Linked DNA regions of Homo sapiens. The main gene of each other region encodes a partner of the protein of the gene in region 2 in a complex. Each region holds a gene or a part of one and is shown on either strand. Other genes may lie near its edges.

Region 1 (7,026 bases), on a different chromosome or scaffold from region 2:
TTCAAGCAATTCTCCTACCTCAGCCTTCCGAGTAGCTGGGATTACAGGCATGTGCCACCACACCCAGCTAAATTTTCTATTTTTTAGTAGAGACAGGGTTTCTCCATGTTGGGCAGGCTGGTCTCAAACTCCCGACCTCAGGTGATTTGCCCGCCTTGGCCTCCCAAAGTGCTGGGATTACAGGCATGAGCCACCACGCCTGGCCTCATTCAACTTTTTTAGACAATACATTCTGTGACTTTTTGCCTGAAGGTAGGTAACCTGGCTACTGATCCTTCTGCCCTCAGCAATGAAGAGGTTGGCTGTTCCATCCACAAACTTTCAATAAATATCCAATAGCCCACATCTGACTCCTGCCCTCTATTAGATATTGTGTTTCTAAATCCAAGACCTCTCTGGTGCTCTAAAGTGAAGATTCATCCTTCCTTGGCTGTAGCCTCTTTACATATATGTGGCTTTCTCTGCCCGGCTCATCAGTCATCACTCTTACATTCTCTGTAGGTCTCCCTAATCTTCATTCAAATCTGCTATCCTTCCCCTTTTTTCATAGCCATGAATTTATAACTTTCTCTATTCATTTACTATTATTTTTAATGGGATCTCAAGGAGAGGGATAAGTAAATATACTAAATCTTGAATTGGAAGATAGCACATACCATTTCAATAGGAATTTTTTGGCAGGGGTGGGAGAATCAGGAGGGAATAATGGTGTAGACTTTATTACCAGATTTACTGTCACTTTTCTTTTTTCTTTTAAGACAGGGTCTTGCTCTGTCACCCAGGCTGGAGTACAATGTTGTGATCATGGATCACTATAGCCTTGACCTCCTAGGCTCAAGCAATCCTCCTGCCTCAGCCTTCTGTGTAGCTGGGACCACAGGCATGCATCACTATGCCTGGCTAAATATTTTATTTTTATTTTTGTAGAGACAGGGTCTCATTTTGTTGCCCAGGCTGGCCTTGAACTCCTGGGCTCAAACTGTCCTCCTGCCTCGGCCTCCCAAAATGCTGGGATTACAGGTGTGAGCCATGGCACCTGATATCACTTTTCTTTATAGTTAAAACTTCCCCTACAGAAGATATAATCTTATAATTGTTGTTACCTCTTCCTCCATGACATAGGTGAGCAGTTTCCAGTCCCACTCCACTGTCTTGGCATTGGCTGGATGTAGCCTGAAAGTCAAGTGAAATCAATTAGAATTATGGAGAATTTAGCGGAAGAAGGGATAGGATCTGAAGGTGATAGAAGGAAGAAGCCTCTTCCTATCCTCCATTATCCTCCATGCTCTTGCTCACTTTCTGGTATCATACCATGTCAATCTGAGAGTAGTGGAACTTCATTGTTTTTTGCTACCCAGTATCCAGTCCCCTTTTGGAAAGCTTTAGTACTATAATTTTGTCTTAAGAAACCAACTCTTCACTACTCTTAACCAACTAGTTTTACCTACCAGAACCCCAAAATGAAGTATGTGGCTTTTTTAGCCAATCGTGCTGTTCTACCCCTCAGTTCACGGTGATTGGCTCAAAGATATGGTCATGTCTCTCATTAGGCCAATTAAATCCTGCAAGACTCAATTTCAGAACTCTTGGGTGACTATAAAGGAAGCAGACACTCTTTCCCACTGGAAGTGTCATAAAAGCCTGAGGCTGAGAGGCTACCACATGCAGCCCCAAAACAGAACTGAGGCTGAGAGGCTACCACATGCAGCCCCAAAACAGAACTGAGGCTGAGAGGCTACCACATGCGGCCCCAAACAGAACTGAGGCTGAGAGGCTACCACATGCGGCCCCAAAACAGAACTGAGGCTGAGAGGCTACCACATGCGGCCCCAAAACAGAACTGAGGCTGAGAGGCTACCACATGCAGCCCCAAACAGAACCGAAGTAGAGCTGCAGAATGAACCCTGGTAACCATTTTTGTATACTGAATCAAGTCACATCTCACTCCTCGGTTTCTAGTAACACGAGCCATTAAATTCTCTTTTAGCAGTAGTTAAGGTCTGTTTGGACTGGGTTTCCTATCATTTGCAATTCAAATAACACTAATATGCTAAGTCACCCACTGTAACGGTTAGGTTAAAAAAGCCTGTCAAGAGAAAGCTATGCCCTGAGTCCAAGATCCCTAGAAGATTCGCCAACAGCCAGAGGTTACGGTTCATACTGTTGAATTTTCATGAGAAGCATGTAGGCCTCCTTTAGGACATCCACAGTCTCAGAGCCACTGAGCAAGATTTTCTGGATGATGTGAGCCACGATTTCTCTTGGTGGGTAATGCTGGGGTGACACAAAGTCCATCAAAAACTGCACAGTCCCCAGAGGAAAATTCTCTTCAATGGTATTTGTTACCATTCTTAGTCTTCGATGAGGGATGGGTTCTAATTTTTGACCCTTGTTCTGTAGAGATTAAAAAGAAGGAAATTAGGAGGGATTTCTTTTCTTTTTTTTTTTTTTTTTTTTTTGAGACGGAGTCTTGCTCTGTTCCCCAGGCTGGAGTGCAGTGGCGTGATCTCAGCTCACTGCAAGCTCTGCCTCCCGAGTTCATGCCATTCTCCTGCCTCAGCCTCCAGAGTAGCTGGGACTACAGGCGCCCACCACCACGCCCGGCTAATTTTCTTTTGTATTTTTAGTAAAGACAGGGTTTCACGGTGTTAGCCAGGATGGTCTCAATCTCCTGACCTCGTGATTTGCCTGTCTCAGCCTCCCAAAGTGCTGGGATTACAGGTGTGAGCCACGGCGCCGAGCCGGGATTTCTATAGTATACAAAAATAAGAGGTTCTAGAATACGTTGAAGATAGCAAAGTTTTCCAGGCATTTGAAATATTTCATGATTAAAAAAAAAAAAAGAGGACGGGTGCAGTGGCTCATGCCTGTAATCCCAGCACTTTGGGAGGCCAAGGCAGGAGAACTGCTTGAGGTCAGGAGTTCGAGAGCAGTCTGGCCAACATGGTGAAACCCCGTCTCTACTAAAAATATAAAAATTAGCCAGACGTGGTGGCACGCAACTGTAGTCCCAGCTACTTGAAGGCTGAGACATGAGAATTGCTTAAACCCGGAAGGTGGAGGCTGCAGTGAACCAAGATGGCGCCACTGCACTCCAGCCTAGGTGACAGAGCGAGACTCCAAATCAAAACAGACAAAAAAGAGCTTTATCTAAAAAACTTTTAATGACATGGGAAAAAGCTCATATAAAGTTAAAAAATCAGAATTCAAAATTGTACATATAACATGATTTCATCTATGTTAAAATATAGCATAGACAGAAAAATACAAAAGGGTCAACAGGTAGCCTAGGTTGATTTTGGGGTGAGGGTAACTAGAGACTTAGGGATAGCTGTGATACTATATCAGATACCGAAATAGATAAGAAAGAAGTTTTAAATTCATTTTGTTGTTAGGAGAAGAATTCCATTTTTTTTTTGTGCGAACAGTAAATATTAAGTTGCTTCTTCCCCCAAAAAATATGTATATAAAGACTGCGAGAGAATATGTGAAAAGTGATTTTCTATTATGTGGGTGGTAGAATTAGTGGTGATTTTTTCTCTATGTGCTCTTCTATATTTTTCAATTTTTCCATAACACACTTATTACTTTTATAATTAGAATTAAACAATTTTAAAGTTTGATATGAGGGTTTAATAACAATAAATTTGGAGCTCTTAATTTTTTTTTTTTTTTTGAGATGAAGTCTGGCTCTGTCACCCAGGCTGGAACACAGTGGCATGATCATGGCTCACTGCAACCTCTGCCTCCCAGGCTCAAGCCATCCTCCCACCTCAGCCTCCCAAGTAGCTGGGACTACAGGTGTGTGCCACCATGCCTGGCTAATTTTTTTTAGTATTTTTAGTAGAGATGGGGTTTCACCATGTTGCCCAGGCTGGTCTCGAACTTGTGAACTCAAGTGATCAAGACTGTCTTGGCTTCCCAAAGTGCTGGGATTATAGGTGTGAGCCATCATGTCTGGCCTTAAACAATTAATTTTTTTTTTTTTTGAGATGGGGTCTCGCTGTGTCGCCCACGCTGGAGCACTGTGGCGTGATCCTGGCACACTGCAAGTTCCGCCTCCCGGGTTCATGCCATTCTCCTGCCTCAGCCTCCAGAGTAGCTAGGATATAGGTGTGTGCCACCATATTCAGCTAATTTTTGAATTTTTTATAGAGGGGGTTTCACTATGTTGCCCAGGCTGGTCTCAAACTCCTGGGCTCAAGCAATCCACCGACCACGGCCTCCCAAAATGCTGGGGTTACAGGCGTGAGCCACTGCGCCCAGCACTGAACACTTAATTGATCCTCAACTAGTTCTTACAATAATCTTAGGAAATACATACTATTATTATTCCTATCTCATAAATAAAGAAACAGATTTGGAGGGTAAGCATTTGTCATACAACAAATGGCAGAAGCTGGTTTCAAACACACGTGGCGTAAACTTCAGAGCCATTCTCTCAACCCCTACTCCCCATAAACAACAAAAATAATGTGTATATGTTAAAAATCCCAATTATTAAAATATGTAAAATGCCTATGTATAAAAAGGCAACTGGGAAGGAAAGACATCAAATTATTCACAATAATAAATGCTGTCTGGGCCGGGCGCGGTGGCTCACGCCTGTAATCCCAGAACTTTGGGAGGCCGAGGTGGGCGGATCACTTGAGGTCAGGAGTTCAAGACAAGCCTGGACAACATGGTGAAACCCTGTCTCTACTAAAAGTACAAAAAGCCGGAAGTGGTAGCGGGCACCTGTAACCCAGCTACGCGGGAGGCTGTGGCAGGAGAATCGCTTGAACCTGGGAGGCGGAGGTTGCAGTGAGTGAGCTGAGATCGTACCACTGTACTCCAGCCTGGGTGACAGGGTGAGACTCTGTCCCAAAAAAAAAAGAATGAGCTAGTGGTCAGGCAGAGGCATAAAGAAGGAGAAGACCTACAACATATTAGAAGATGTAATAATTTTAAAAAAGAGAAAAAAAATCATTCTCCAAGGTCAAATCAGTGTGAATCCTTGGCTCCTGCCTACCTGGATCACTGCTTGAATGAGGAGAGCATACCTTTTGACACTGAACTGTTTCAAGCTGGTTTTCTTAATATGGGGGATGGGATGTACATAACTAAAAAACACTTCATACGGTGGAACTTAGCCAGTTATTTTCCCTAACACATCTAGTTTACTTCTCATAAATCAATGATGACCAATGGAAAGGAGCATTCCCACTCATGTCTTAATATTGAATTTCCTCCCCCAAAGTCAGCAAGTAATAATTTTGGAGGCCCATAAGTGATAGAGTATTATTATCTCTGTGATATAGAAGCTGTAATAAGGGCACCAGGAAGGGAAAAGCATAGGAGTTGAAGATAAACATTTATTTATTTTTTTGAGACAGAGTCTTGCTCTGTGGCCAAGGCTGGAGTGCAGTGGTGCAGTCTCAGCTCACTGCAACCTCCGCCTCCCAGATTCAGGTGATTCTCCTGCCTCAGCCTCCTGAGTAGCTGGGATTACAGGTGCATGCCACCACATCCAGCTAGAAGATAAGAATTTACATAAGGCCTACGATGAGCCTGACACCCTGACACTTTCACGTATGACCCTGTGAGGTATGTTATTACTTCCATTTTACAGATAGGAAAGCTAAGGCTTAAAAAGGTAAAGTGCCCTGCTGGGCGCGGTGGCTCATGCCTGTAATCCCAGCACTTTGGGAGGCTGAGGCGGGTGGATTACAAGATCAGGAGATCAAGACCATCCTGGCTAACACAATGAAACCCTGTCTCTACTAAAATACAAAAAATTAGCCGGGCGTGCCAGGCGCGGTGGCTCACGCCTGTAATCCTAGCACTTTGGGAGGCCGAGGCGGGTGGATCACGAGGTCAGGAGATCGAGGCCATTCTGGCTAACACTGTGAAACCCCGTCTCTACTAAAAATACAAAAAATCAGCTGGGCGTGGTAGCGGGCGCCTATAGTCCCAGCTACTCGGGAGGCTGAGGCAAGCGAATGACGTGAACCCGGGAGGCGGAGCTTGCAGTGAGCGGAGATCGTGCCACTGCACTCCAGCCTGGGCGACAGAGCGAGACTCCATCTCAAAAAAAAAAAAAAAAAAAAAAAATTAGCCGGGCATGGCGGCATGCGCCTGTAGTCCCAGCTGCTAGGGAGGCTGAGGTAGAAGAAACTCTTGAACCTGGGAGGCGGAGGTTGCAGTGAGCCAAGATTGTGCCACTGCACTCTAGCCTGGGAGACAGAGCAAGACTCGGTCTCAAAAAAAAAAAAAAAAAAAAAAGTAAAGTGACAGTTTTTAAGCGTGGGGCTAAAATTTGAACCCAGATCTGGGCCTCTACACTGAATGGGTCTTCACAAGTGGAGGAAAGATAAGAAATTTCATTTATGCTTGACCTGTCCTCTCACGCATGGACTCCAGTCACACTGACCTTCTCCTAGGCCTAGGGAAAGGACACCTAATCCCTGAGGGAAGATGTTAGCTCACCTCTCTTGTGTCTTTATCCGGTATTAGCGTCTGAAAGAAGAGGTGATGAACCGGAGGACGTAAGAAGTACTTCAGTCTATGCAGGCATGGTCTGTTGTACAACCCACCTTGTGGTGTTCGTGATTGTACGTGGGCAGACCCAGGTTTGGCAGGCTCTGACAGTGATATTTCTTTTCTGGCTGGGGTTTCCATGACAGAGAGCCAAGGAACTTTCTCTAAGGGAGTTTCAGACTGTGGGCTGGGAGAGCAGCTTGGAGAGGACAGAGCTGAGATATCCATAGGCATGTCACGGTTCTGTACATCATTCTGGGTAAAGTCAGGCCTGTCTCCTGGTAAGTGAGGGATGTCTCTAGGTGAGTGTGTCACGTCCCCTGATGAGTGTGGCATGTCTCCAGGTGAATGTAACACATCTCCCGGTAAGTGTGGCATGCCCCCTGGTGACTGTGGTGCATCTGGTGACGGTGAAACATCACTTGGTGACTGTGGCACATCTCCTGGTGACCGTGGCATGTCTTGCAGGTATGCCACATCTTGTGGATGTAATATGCTTTGAGGCAG
Region 2 (7,026 bases):
GAAGGTTTTAATATTTGCTTATATGATGCCATATTATGCTTTTATTTTCAGGAAGCAGTCAATTATAGATTTCTTCAAACCAGCTTCAAAACAAGGTATGTACACTGTTGATGCATTTTTTGTGGGCTATTTTGGGGGTGAGGAGAGAGACAGATTCAACTTTAAAACCTACTCTAAACTGTTTTAGTAAACGTAGTGTTCAAAATTGAAAATAAAATGAAGATGCAGTATTTTGTTTTACAAGGATAAACTGAAGTTCTAAATATGAAAGTCTTTTTGCTGTTATGTTTTCTTACATTTAAAATATTATTCTAGTAAAAAATTTAATGTTCATAATACATACTATTTTGATTCTCTAATACAGTAATTTATAGAGCCATAGGGAGGTTATATGATGTACCAAAAGAGAGCTTTATGAAACTAAGGCTTTTAACAAATAAATCATCTCTTAATTTCTCCTATACCCCCCAATAAAGTGTGTATCATTATCCAAGTTGTTGGTTTGAAAATTTTTGTGGTAACATTAGTATAGTTTAATTTATATTTTAAACATTAATAATTTAGATAAATATTAAATATTTTACTAACATGCAATTTGTATGTGTTTTAATTGGCTATTTAGACAGACACATGTTGGATTCACCACAAAAATCAAACATCAAATATGGAGGAAGTAGATTGTCTATCACTGGGACAGAGCAGTTTGAAAGGAAACTATCCTCACCAAAAGAATCTAAACCCAAAAGGGTGCCACCAGAAAAGAGCCCTATTATAGAAGCTTTCATGAAAGGTGTTAAAGAGCACCATGAAGATCATGGTATACATGAGTCACGTCGGCCTTGTCTGTCACTAGCCTCCAAATATTTAGCCAAAGGAACAAATATCTATGTTCCTTCTTCATATCACTTGCCAAAGGAGATGAAGTCACTAAAGAAAAAACATCGATCCCCAGAGAGAAGGAAGTCACTATTCATTCATGAAAATAATGAGAAGAATGATAGAGATCGAGGCAAAACCAATGCAGACTCCAAAAAGCAGACCACAGTGGCAGAAGCTGACATCTTCAATAACAGCTCCAGAAGCCTTAGCAGCAGGAGCAGCCTGTCCAGGCACCACCCGGAAGAAAGCCCACTGGGAGCTAAATTCCAGTTGTCACTAGCTTCTTACTGCAGAGAACGAGAACTAAAGAGGTTGAGAAAGGAGCAAATGGAGCAGAGAATCAACTCCGAGAATTCTTTCTCAGAAGCAAGCAGTCTTTCCTTAAAATCTAGTATAGAAAGAAAATATAAACCAAGGCAGGAACAAAGGAAACAGAATGACATCATACCTGGAAAAAATAATCTGTCAAATGTGGTATGTGTAAGAATTATTGAATTAGCATTGCTACTGCTATGTCATATTTAGAATACTAAATTTAAAAATATTTAAGAGTTGTTACATCACATTGACGTCTTTCCTGAAGGAAATACTTATGCACAGTTTGTGTAGAAGCTGGTTTCATTACATTTCCTCCAGTTGCCCTTCATCGAACTCAGTAAAGCAGTGTTTCTTATCCTTAGTTTTTTCAGACTGGGAACAAAGATCTTTTTTAGTCAGAAAAGTAAGCATTCTTTTTTTTTAAGGCAAGTATAGTCTTACTTATTTATGTGTAGACAGTCTTGCTCTGTTGCTCATGCTGGAGTGCTATGGCGTGATCATGTCTCATTGCAGTCTCAAACTCCTGGGCTCAAATGATGCTCTCACCTCAGCTTCCCAAGTAGTCGAGACTCCAGGTACCTGCCACCATATTTGACTAATTTTTGTATTTTTTTGTAGAGACAGGTCTCCCTATACTGCCCAGGCTGGCCTTGAACCCCTGGCCTCAAGCGATCCTCCTGCTTCCTGTACTTTGGGAGGCCTAGGTGGAAGGATTGCTTGAGCTCAGGAGTTTGAGACCAGCCAGAGCCACATATCGAGACCTTGGCTCTACTACAAATAAATAAATAAATAAATAACCAGTCATGGTGGCATGTGCCTGTTCTCCTAGCTACTTAGGAGGCTAAGGTGGGAGGCTCGCTTGAGCCCAGGAGATCAAGGTTGCAGTGAGTTTGATCACACCATTGCACTCCAGCCTGGGTGACAGAGCGAGACCTTGTCTCAAAAATACAGTGTTCTAATATAATATTCTTGAATTATTGATATAAACGTAAATCAGCATTTTGAAAACTGACTTCATTTTTATGATATTTTTACATGTTTATGATACAAATGCCCTTAATTTTTATGACAAAAACCTTAAGATCTTTAAATATTTTATTATAGACATTAGGATTTACCTCCAAATATGGGTGCTTGCCTTATTCAATCTAGAAATCTGTGTTTAAATGTTAGGAAGAATGCCTTCACATTCTTTACTGTCCCCAACACTTAATTAATTTTATCTCATTGTGCTCATAGGAAAATGGACATCTCTCAAGAAAAAGATCCTCTTCTGATTCATGGGAACCTACTTCAGGTAGAATCAAAATTAAATTTATGGATTTCTAAATAAATTTCCATTTTAATGGCACTGCTTTTTAAAATAAATTTGTTTAAATATGCAGTTCCCTTCTTGGGGATGAATTAAGTGTCTCATATTAATTAAGAGTTTGGTAAGATCATATTAAAAAAGACTAGTCCCTGAATCTAGTACTTATAATTTGGGTTTGTTTTTGAGACAGGGTCTTACTCTGTCACCCAGGCTGGGATGCAGTGGCATGATCACGACTCAACTGCAAGCCTTGACCTCCTGGCCTCGAATGATTCTCCCACCTCAGCTTCCTGAGTAGCTGGGACTACAGATGTGGGCAACTATGCCTGGTTAATTTCTTGTATTTTTGTAGAGACGAGGTTTCGCCACGTTGCCCAGGCTGGTCTCAAACTCCTGAGCTCATGAGCCACCACACCTGACCTAGTGCATATAATTTGTAATCTGTCTTGAATCTCTGCCCTCTTCAGGAGTTCCTAACAGTATGTTTCTCATACTGGTATTCAGTGTTTCCTTCTGAATCCTTGGCTACATCAGGAAACATAATCTTTTTTTTTTTTTTTTTTTTTTTTTTTTTGAGACAGAGTCTCGCTCTGTCGCCCAGGCTGGAGTGCAGTGGTGTAATTTGGCTCATTGCAAGCTCCGCCTCCCGGGTTCACACCATTCTCCTGCCTCAGCCTCCCAAATATCTGGGACTACAGGCGCCCACCACCATGCCCGACTAATTTTTTGTATTTTTAGTGGAGACGGGGTTTCACCACGTTAGCCAGGATGGTCTCGATCTCCTGACCTCGTGATCTGCCCACCTCGGCCTCCCAAAGTGCTGGGATTACAGGCATGAGCCACTGCACCGGGCCCCCAGGAAACATAATCTTATTATCTTGGAATTGTAGACTGAGTTGTTGGTATTATGTTGAAGATGCTTTGTATAGGGTTGAGACTGTTACCATGATAAAAAGCAGTGTTCTCTAATATTTCAAATCCAAGGATCCCTTTTTAATATTAAATTTCAAGGATATCTACATGACATTAGTTTGTACTTTTAGCATTTATTGATTGAAAAAAATATAAAATAACAAATCTGTTAATTCAGTACATTTTATCTTTTTTTAAAACTAGAAAATAGAAGATTAAAAAGGCAAACACTGCAGAAGTTTGCAACAAGAAATGAAAGGTCTCCACAACTAACAACAGTTAATAGTCTAGTGTATCCGATTTTTTTCCTGATGTGACTATACATTTTGAAAAACAAATTCCCACATTCAGTAAGATACATTGGACACGATAATAATAGCTGGCTTTCATTGAGTACTTACTGTGTGCTATGCCATTTTATGTGCTTCTAATTCGTTTGAACCTCATAACTTTATATGATAGTGGTTTACTTTTAGAGATGGAAAAGCCAAAGTACAGAGAGTCAGTTCTAATTCCTCCTTCAGGTTTCATCTACTTCATTTTATTTATATTTTAGAGGTGCATTGCATTTTGACCAAGAACTCTCAACTGGTAAAATCAATCTTCAGCCAAGGCTGAAACCATATTTTACCATTATAGAAGGAACTTCTAGGATACAGGAATAAATCTAAAGTTTTGTGTGTTTTTTGTTTATTTAATTTTTATAATGTTGCTGATTTTATGACCAAATTTTAGTGAATTTTGACATTATTGTAGAAGAACAGGAATTTCTCAGCCAGGAGATTGCTTCTGCACTCACTGTATTGCACATTTTTAATACTAAATACATGATCACCTTGCACCAAAGTTAATGGAAGAACAAAATATTATTTTATATAAGGGGCTGCTGCTGGTGGTGTGGCTACCACATTATTCCTTTTCTTTTTTCTCTGACTTAAGATTTGAAAAAATCTTTTCATTTCCTGGATTTGCAAATTTCATTCATGGTGGCTAAAGTAGTTTCATTTATATAATCCCACCTAGCAAAGTTTTTGAGTACTGCTTGGAAAAGATGCTTTCTACATATTTTCAGAGGCTGACTTATGATGGTTGCCGTCACTTATATTTTTATTACCAATATTTTTGCATGTGTTTCATAATCACTAATAATTATAGCATTATACTCTTAATAAATATACATTTATACTTCAATTGACTAACATCAACAGAATTTCAACATGTAAAGGACAAGGGGATATTTCAATCTAGATAGCATGAAGAATGCTTATTGTGTCTGATAGCAAAATTATTAAAAATCTAAGCCAGGCGCAGTGGTTCATGCCTGTAATCCCAGCACTTTGGGAGGCCAAGGCAGATGGATCACCTGAGGTCAGGAGTTCGAGACCAGCCTGGCCAACATGGTGAGACCTCGTCTCTACTAAAATTACAAAAATTAGCTGGGCATGGTGCCCAAGCCTGTAATCCCAGCTACTCAGGAGGCCAAGGCAGGAAAATTGCTTGAACCTGGAAGGTGGAGGTTGCAGTGAGCTGAGATGGTGCCACTGCACTCCAGCCTGGGTGTCAGAGCAGGACTCAATCTCGAAAAAAATAAATAAATAAAAATAAAAATCCAAATGATATGTCTTGTTCATCTTGTTAATACACTTAATCAATTGTCATGGTAATGTACATAATCACGCAATCATTAATCACATACAAGTTCAGGGATTTCAGAAGTAATGTTAGACTAGGCATTTAGCCCTTTGGTCTTCTAGAGCCCTGTCTTTTGGCTGAATTGTGAGGGGAAATTTAATCCATTGCTAGTACATTTCGTAACTGATTAATAACCAATCACCTATTAATGGCCTTTGGATTTTTCCTTTTTCTTGAGATGGAGTCTCACTGTCTCCTAGGCTGGAGTGCAGTGGTGAGATTGTAGCTCACTTGCAGCACTGAACTCCTGGGCTGAAGCAATCCTCCTGCCTCAGCCTCCCAAAGTGCTGGGATTACGGGCGTGAGCCACCATGCCCAGCCTCCTTTTTTTCTTTTTACAAACTCAATCTCTCTCTTATATGAATATTTTATGTATTAGTATATTTGAAATATTTGAAAAACTGTAAAACAAATATTCTCTACAGGCTGACAAAGGATACAAAAAGAATTATGAACATTTTGCAATTAATCACCTGACCTGAAGAGCTTGCTAAAGGGGATCCTACCTGCAGTACCAATTCACTTTTCTCTAATTCTAGATGATGAAACCCCTTAATAAGCTGACTTATCCTAAACATCTTCCACAAACAGTGTTTGTCTCCTCCTGGATCAACCCTGAATAATGCCTGAGCAAAGCAGGAATTTCTCCTCATTTCTAGCTATATTTAAATTATCTGACTTCTCTAGAAAAATGGAACAAAACTCAAACTGGCAGCTCTGTAGCTCATTTTTTGTAATCCCATACTTAAAAGTAAGATAATGAGCCAAATCTTCTCTTTTGTTTAGTCATTTAATTTCTCATCCTGTTACCCCTGTCCTTTTTGTAAGACATTTAACCCCAGAAAACTGAATAGGATGGAATGATTTCCTCAGGTAATGGGAGATATCTGTAAAAGAGCAGAGATAAGGGCATTTGTTAATTAGTTAATTTAATTTTTATAAATTGAATTTTTCAGATTATATATTGATCAAGCTATCCAAATAATAATTGCCTCTCAAGTTTGGTTTTGGCGGGTTTATTTTATTTTATTTACTCATTTTGATTCAAGGTCTTACTCTGGTGCCCAGGCTGGAGTGCAATGGCACAATTACAGCTCACTGTAGCCTCACGGGGCTCAAGCAGTCCTCCCACCTGAGCCTCCAAGTAGGTGGGACTACAGGCACATGCCACTGCACCCGGCTAATTTTTGTATTTTTTGTAGAGACTATTTCACCATGTTGCCTAGGCTGGTCTCAAACTCCTGAGCCCAAGTGATCCTCCCAAAGTGCTGGGATTACAGGCATGAGCCACTAGACATGGCCAAAAGATAAGAAATTTTCTAACTAGAGAAGGGATTGACGGGGTTGTACTTTTCGCAGAGGCAGGGTTTCACCTGAGCTCACGAACTCCCACCTTGGCCTCCCAAAGTTGTGGTATTACAGGCATGAGCCACTGTGCCCAGCCATTTTAGGTTTTTAAAGCAACTCTTGGGGAATGGAGACATCTGTCCATGTGCAGAAAATTTGATTTAGGGAAATCTGGTTTGGGGAATACTGATTGCACAAATAGTGAATTTTTTGTGTTTTTTTTTGTTGTTGTTTTGTTTTTTTGAGTTGAAGTCTTGCTTTGGTACCTAGGCTGGTCTTGAACTCCTGGGCTCAAGTTATCTTCCCACCTCAGCCTCCTGAGTAGCTGGGACTATATAGGCACACACCACTGCACCAGGTTAAAGTGAATTTTTTTTTTTTTTTTTGAAACGGAGTCTTGCTCTGTTGCCCAGACTGGCGTGCAGTGGTGCCGTCTTGGCTCAGTGCAACCACCACCTCCCAGGTTCAAGCGATTCTCCTGTCTTGGCCTCCCAAGTAGCTGGGAGTACAGGCACGCACCACCATGCCTGGCTAATTTTTGTATTTTCAGTAGAGACAGGGTTTCA

The links. Proteins that work in one complex are often made in the same cells at the same time.
Region 1: the proteins of SLF2 (region 2) and SIMC1 are in contact, whole or in part, in a cryo-EM structure (PDB 7T5P), measured with the Homo sapiens proteins. Residues at the interface, in NP_060591.3 of Homo sapiens: His738, Val772, Leu775, Lys778, Asp783, Phe786, Gln790, Gly791, Phe792, Thr794, Ser795, Ala796, Tyr797, His798, Tyr799, Cys820, Ile821, Gln825, Ser828, Met831, Glu832, Ile835, Arg836, Asp838, Thr839, Ser841, Asp842, Ser843, Pro847, Lys919; in NP_001295125.1 of Homo sapiens: Tyr426, Arg428, Leu431, Lys435, Leu438, Pro440, Val442, His443, His444, Leu445, Phe447, Gln448, Arg470, Arg471, Phe490, Asp493, Pro497, Val521, Asp522, Lys525, Glu526, Tyr528, Met529, Met532, Lys533, Gln536, Leu537, Arg571, Asn658, Gln661.

What each region holds. Positions count from the first base shown.
Region 1 is NC_000005.10:176,290,398-176,297,423, reverse strand, and holds part of SIMC1 (SUMO-interacting motif-containing protein 1), read right to left. Parts: coding exon 6,469-7,026; intron 2,395-6,468; coding exon 2,162-2,394; intron 1,174-2,161; coding exon 1,104-1,173; intron 1-1,103.
Region 2 is NC_000010.11:100,915,948-100,922,973, forward strand, and holds part of SLF2 (SMC5-SMC6 complex localization factor protein 2), read left to right. Parts: intron 1-51; coding exon 52-95; intron 96-622; coding exon 623-1,353; intron 1,354-2,436; coding exon 2,437-2,494; intron 2,495-7,026. UniProt on the Homo sapiens protein: Plays a role in the DNA damage response (DDR) pathway by regulating postreplication repair of UV-damaged DNA and genomic stability maintenance.